Homo sapiens: one gene and its partner. The protein of the gene in region 1 purifies or fractionates together with the protein of each later gene. This does not show direct contact. Each region holds a gene or a part of one and is shown in the gene's direction. Other genes may lie near its edges.

Region 1 (2,753 bases):
CCTCCCCCTACCCACCCTTTTTTTTTTTTTAAGAGAATTATACTCATTTAACTCTTATACAGTCATGGATTTCCTCTCTCTGCTTCTTGTCACTCTCCTATTTGATCTTTACTGTTCTTGAATCCATCCAATCTAGTTTATGGATTGGGGTTGTGGACACTTACTAGTTTCTTTGAAGATAGAATCTGTATGTTTATTTTTCTGCTTGTTTTGGAAAGAGATAAGTTCTGAGAAGAGAACATTTTGGATTTACTCGGCCATGTTCAAACCAGAAGTACACTTTTTGCTTATTTTTCCCAAGGGTTTGTCTTTCATAATCTTTACAAATAGGTTCTTGCAGCTGGGGGGCGGGTTGGAGGAGGGAGGTCCAGAGTGGTAATGTTACCTGTGCTTACGCCTGCAAATAAAGTTATTCAGGTAAATGTAGCGACAGAGTAAACAAGTGTAGTGTGGCCTAAGGAGCGCAAAATTCCTTACTTGTACAGAGGGAACGTGGCAGAGGGCCGGGCAAGTAGAAGGGGGTCTGTTTCTTTTTCTTGAGTAAATAAATTATTGGGAGGAGTGATTCTTTTCCTCCCTGGATGTTTCTTTGCAGGAACTCATGCAGCCAGAATCTGGGGCCAATGGAACAGTCATTGCTGAGTTCATCCTGCTGGGCTTGCTGGAGGCGCCAGGGCTGCAGCCAGTTGTCTTTGTGCTCTTCCTCTTTGCCTACCTGGTCACGGTCAGGGGCAACCTCAGCATCCTGGCAGCTGTCTTGGTGGAGCCCAAACTCCACACCCCCATGTACTTCTTCCTGGGGAACCTATCAGTGCTGGATGTTGGGTGCATCAGCGTCACTGTTCCATCAATGTTGAGTCGTCTCCTGTCCCGCAAGCGTGCAGTTCCCTGTGGGGCCTGCCTTACCCAGCTCTTCTTCTTCCATCTGTTCGTTGGAGTGGACTGCTTCCTGCTGACCGCCATGGCCTATGACCGATTCCTGGCCATCTGCCGGCCCCTCACCTACAGCACCCGCATGAGTCAGACAGTCCAGAGGATGTTGGTGGCTGCGTCCTGGGCTTGTGCTTTCACCAACGCACTGACCCACACTGTGGCCATGTCCACGCTCAACTTCTGTGGCCCCAATGTGATCAATCACTTCTACTGTGACCTCCCACAGCTCTTCCAGCTCTCCTGCTCCAGCACCCAACTCAATGAGCTGCTGCTTTTTGCTGTGGGTTTTATAATGGCAGGTACCCCCATGGCTCTCATTGTCATCTCCTATATCCACGTGGCAGCTGCAGTCCTGCGAATTCGCTCTGTAGAGGGCAGGAAGAAAGCCTTCTCCACATGTGGCTCCCACCTCACTGTGGTTGCCATATTCTATGGTTCAGGTATCTTTAACTATATGCGACTGGGTTCAACCAAGCTTTCAGACAAGGATAAAGCTGTTGGAATTTTCAACACTGTCATCAATCCCATGCTGAACCCAATCATCTACAGCTTCAGAAACCCTGATGTGCAGAGTGCCATCTGGAGGATGCTCACAGGGAGGCGGTCACTGGCTTGAGGAGGTCTCAATTGACCCTTTCTCCCTGTGTCTTGTACTAAAGGAAAAGTCTTCTAGAGCCAGAAACTAGGAAAAAAATGGTTCACACCTGTTTCTGTTTCATGGGCATAAGAAGGACTTTTTGTAGGGAATAATAGTTTTCATTTCTGAAAGCAGCCCTGTCCAATTATAAGCAATGAGTGTATAGGATCTGCCAAGCCAGCCCCTTAGACAAATTCAGCTTCAGGCACCGTGTTCTCTCCTTTCTGGCTAGAGGTGAAACCTAGGAAGCTGTGAGTGCTGACAGGTTCATGTTCCAGAAGGAATGACTCTTTGGTTGGTTACAGCCTTAGTTGCCAGAAGTACCCCAGAAAACTCCCCGCCAGAAGTCATATTTTTCCCTCAAGTTCAGGTGTGCTTGGTCTGTTTATAAAACATAGGTCTAGAGATTAGGATTGTTTTATTTCTCCCATCAGAACTCTAAAAGCAAAAATAAAACAAAAAGAAACAAAAACAAAAAAGTAGCTCTTTCTATTCCCATTAAACAAGGACCCCATAGCATAGACAGGGGACAGAGGGGAAGCTGTATGATTATGTATTCTCTAGTAATTCTGGAGCACCTGATACCTGTGTGCAGCTCACAGACTTGTTTCCAAATGCTAAAACTCCATTAATATGTATTATATATCTTATGTTACAAAAATGAATTTTCCTCATCTTTTTCTCCCATGTGTTTCAAATTTTTTGAAAAGATAAGAATTTATAATCTAAGCATTATTTACATATTTCAGAAAATCCAAGACTACTCAATATGAAAATTTCTCCAAAACTCTCACTCTTAGTCTCCAAACCTCCTTGCTGAGATAATCCATAACTATAAATGCAAGTCATATGGTGAGGAGTCACCCTGAATGTCCCTTCTCAGTAGGGGAGTGTGGCTCTGACCCAGAGCATTAGCTCAACTTGCTTGAAGTTAAACCAGCCATGATTTCGCTGTATCTTTTCAGCTTCCCATTTAGGACTCATTGCCCATTCCTGGCAACTCTGCTGTGCCACTGCTGTTTCCAAATGCATTTTCCTAAAACTTTCCTTTGACTGGCACCTGTGACTTGGCTTCTCTATAATATTTTATGGGGGTGAGGGATTGAATAGATGCAGTAAGATAGAGATAAAGAGAAAAGACACAAAAGAGGGAAGCAAAACAAGACTGGAGGAGGAGAGTTGG
Region 2 (2,723 bases), on another chromosome or scaffold:
TGCACTCACATGCAGCTCCCTGGACTTCTGGTATCTGACCCGGCCCATTTCTGTGTTTCAGGGGAGAATTTGGCTTGCGGGAGTACTCAGAAGTTAAGACGGTGACAGTAAAGATCCCCCAGAAGAACTCCTAAGAAGGCCAAGAAGGAGGATGAAGCCCAGCCTGCACGTCTGTCCCTCTCTGCTTTCTCTGTAGGGCCCAGCTCTCAGGAATACAAAGTTGAGCCACGGTCCTTACTTAAAGATTGAAAAGATAACATGTAGGCCAGGCAGGTCACTGCACAACTAAAGCAAACCAGCTGGGTACAGTTTCTTGGCACTCTGTAAGGGGCCACCTTAATCATACCAAATATTGGGGAAAGTGGGATAAAGGGAGGAGGAGGAGCTAGCAGACACATCCAGTATCTCCTTCTGGAGCACAGGATGAAATAAGGGAGCTGTATTATTTCATGTCTTTGTCACAAAGAACTTTCCTCTCAAGGAAAGGTGACCTTTCTCCTGTCTTCATTTTCCTCCTTCCAGGCCCTCCTCGCTCACCCACCCCTCCCTCTCTTCCAAGGAGATGTCAGCTGAGCTCATTCTGGGGCAGATGTTTGGGCCGGGAACAATTTTTCAAGGTTGTAAAGCCAAATTATCATTTCATGTTATCCATTTCTTCAAAGCAAAACATGAAATGGTTTTAGCTAGAGTCAGACCAGAATGAAAATGCCAGGAGCTGGTACACTACAGATGTAGTAAGAACCTGGGATATTCCTGACCCAATCTGGTTTTCTTTTACCCATAAATAACATGAATGAAAAAAGATTGGGACAATAGAGACTGGAAGTCATCATGTGCAGTTCACCGCTTCTGAGCTTGCTGCAGTTTTGGGGTGTGTGTGTATTAGATTCCTTCTCAGTTATTCTGGAATAAGGCAAGGAGTGGGTTGTTTTTCATAGCTAGATAAGATCTTTTCCAAAGTTTTTCTTAGAACCAACCAAAAAACAATCCGAGTAGGCCCAAGAATTTGATAATGCTGGATGCCTTGCAGACATCATTCAGTTTCTAATATTGGGCAACAATTATTATTAAATGAATTATTTCTGTAGTTGGAATCTGTACCTTCTGAACCTCTACACCAATAACTGCTGCAGGTGTGATTTTGGTCTGTCACACTGTACATCTATCATAATGTGCCCTGTATCTATTGGCAGTGACCTTGGAAAATCTGGCCAAGCCTAGGGGTTTCCTTTTCCATTTGCCAAGTTCCATTGTGCCAGGACTGCCGTGCTCCACTGAGCTCCTCTGTCACACCCCATTCTTGCCCCTCACTGGGCAGGCCATGGCCTACAGCTTGCAGGGAGTAAAGCAGGCCCGCCTCCCTTTCTTCCCATCCACATACTCCTCTTCTGCTTTCCAGTGACTCCACCAGTTTGATGTGGGAAGTGTTAGCTTCCTTTCCTTCTTCCATCCCTTCTTCCATCTTTCCAGCTGTCAAATCCAATCCAGTCTCTAACCTAAATGCAGATCATTTATTTAAAAGTACCAAACATAACCCAGAGTATGTGGAATATGGGCAACATATATATAGCCTTCTGTATTTAACGATCTTCTGCTTCTTAACCGTACCAGTTTTCTATTTATAACTCTTATCTATCCATGATGTTTTAAAGTCTCCACTTGCTGTTATTTACAAACGACAGTGCATTCAGCAGCCCAGTGCCGTGAGCCCTGACAGATGCCGTATTTCTGAGTGCTTCCATGTGAATGCTGCCCTCCTGTAGCATGTGTCCAAGTGGACATAGCCACTAACCAACTAGTTACCTTTGGACTGCAACAAAAAATGTGAAAATGAAGATTTATTTCTTTTAATTTACTTAAAAAGAAACCTCTGTGCTAGCAATAAAGCATTTATATTGTGTACTCCTTGGGATTGTTTGGCTGTGTCTGTAAGTCTTTGGGTCATACTGAGTCTCTTTGGGTCCTTCCTCAGCTGCTGGGTTTTTCAGCTGTGTTGCCCTCTTGGGTAACTGAGCAGAAGCCTGCAAGGGTATTTTTACAGAATTCATTAAGGCAACTGGTAAATGGTATTAAGGTAAACAAAAACCTTATTTTCTGATGCTATTTAAAATCTGTGTGCATGTGTAGTTTAGCTGGCATGTAAGTATAACCATATATGAAATATATGAAATAACAAGTTTCCTTTAGAATAGCCTCCATGAAAACTAAAATGCAGAGCAGTCTATAGGGTCTGTTTTCACAAACGTGGACTACCCGCCGTGAGCTCACATTGCTGATGGCATTTCACAGTAGCTTTATTTTTACTTACTTACCAAAGTGAAATGAAGTCAGAGGCTGATAACCTGATGGAATATTTTTGCAGCTGTAAAAAGAAATCTGTAAATGGTGACCGTACTACTACCAAGATTGAGCTTGTTTTCTCTCAGTGTGTTCTCAGAGTTGCGCTTTTGAGGAGTGGTTCCCACCCTTTAGAACCGCACAGCTCCCCACCTTTCCTTCCAGCCCTTGGAATCTCCACCCAAGTTCCGATCAAGTGAGACAAAAGCTAAACCTAATGAATTAGCCCCAGAGCAGATCTCGCTTGGGGGACAAGAAGCATTGCTGTGGACTGGGGTTCACTGCTCTGTTTGCCAGTAGCTTATTTTTTAGAGGAACAGAAGGAGCATGGGAGAATGCAGCCCCTGCAGCACCAGATGGAACTGAAATATAAGATGCGGGACTCC

The links.
Region 2: the proteins of OR3A1 (region 1) and ALDH1A2 purify together in Homo sapiens (affinity purification with mass spectrometry; one large-scale study listed by BioGRID and IntAct). This does not show direct contact.

What each region holds. Positions count from the first base shown.
Region 1 is NC_000017.11:3,290,431-3,293,183, reverse strand, and holds the end of OR3A1 (olfactory receptor 3A1), read left to right. Parts: intron 1-595; 5' UTR 596-601; coding exon 602-1,549; 3' UTR 1,550-2,167; downstream 2,168-2,753. UniProt on the Homo sapiens protein: Odorant receptor.
Region 2 is NC_000015.10:57,952,608-57,955,330, reverse strand, and holds the end of ALDH1A2 (retinal dehydrogenase 2), read left to right. Parts: intron 1-61; coding exon 62-134; 3' UTR 135-1,902; downstream 1,903-2,723. UniProt on the Homo sapiens protein: Catalyzes the NAD-dependent oxidation of aldehyde substrates, such as all-trans-retinal and all-trans-13,14-dihydroretinal, to their corresponding carboxylic acids, all-trans-retinoate and all-trans-13,14-dihydroretinoate, respectively.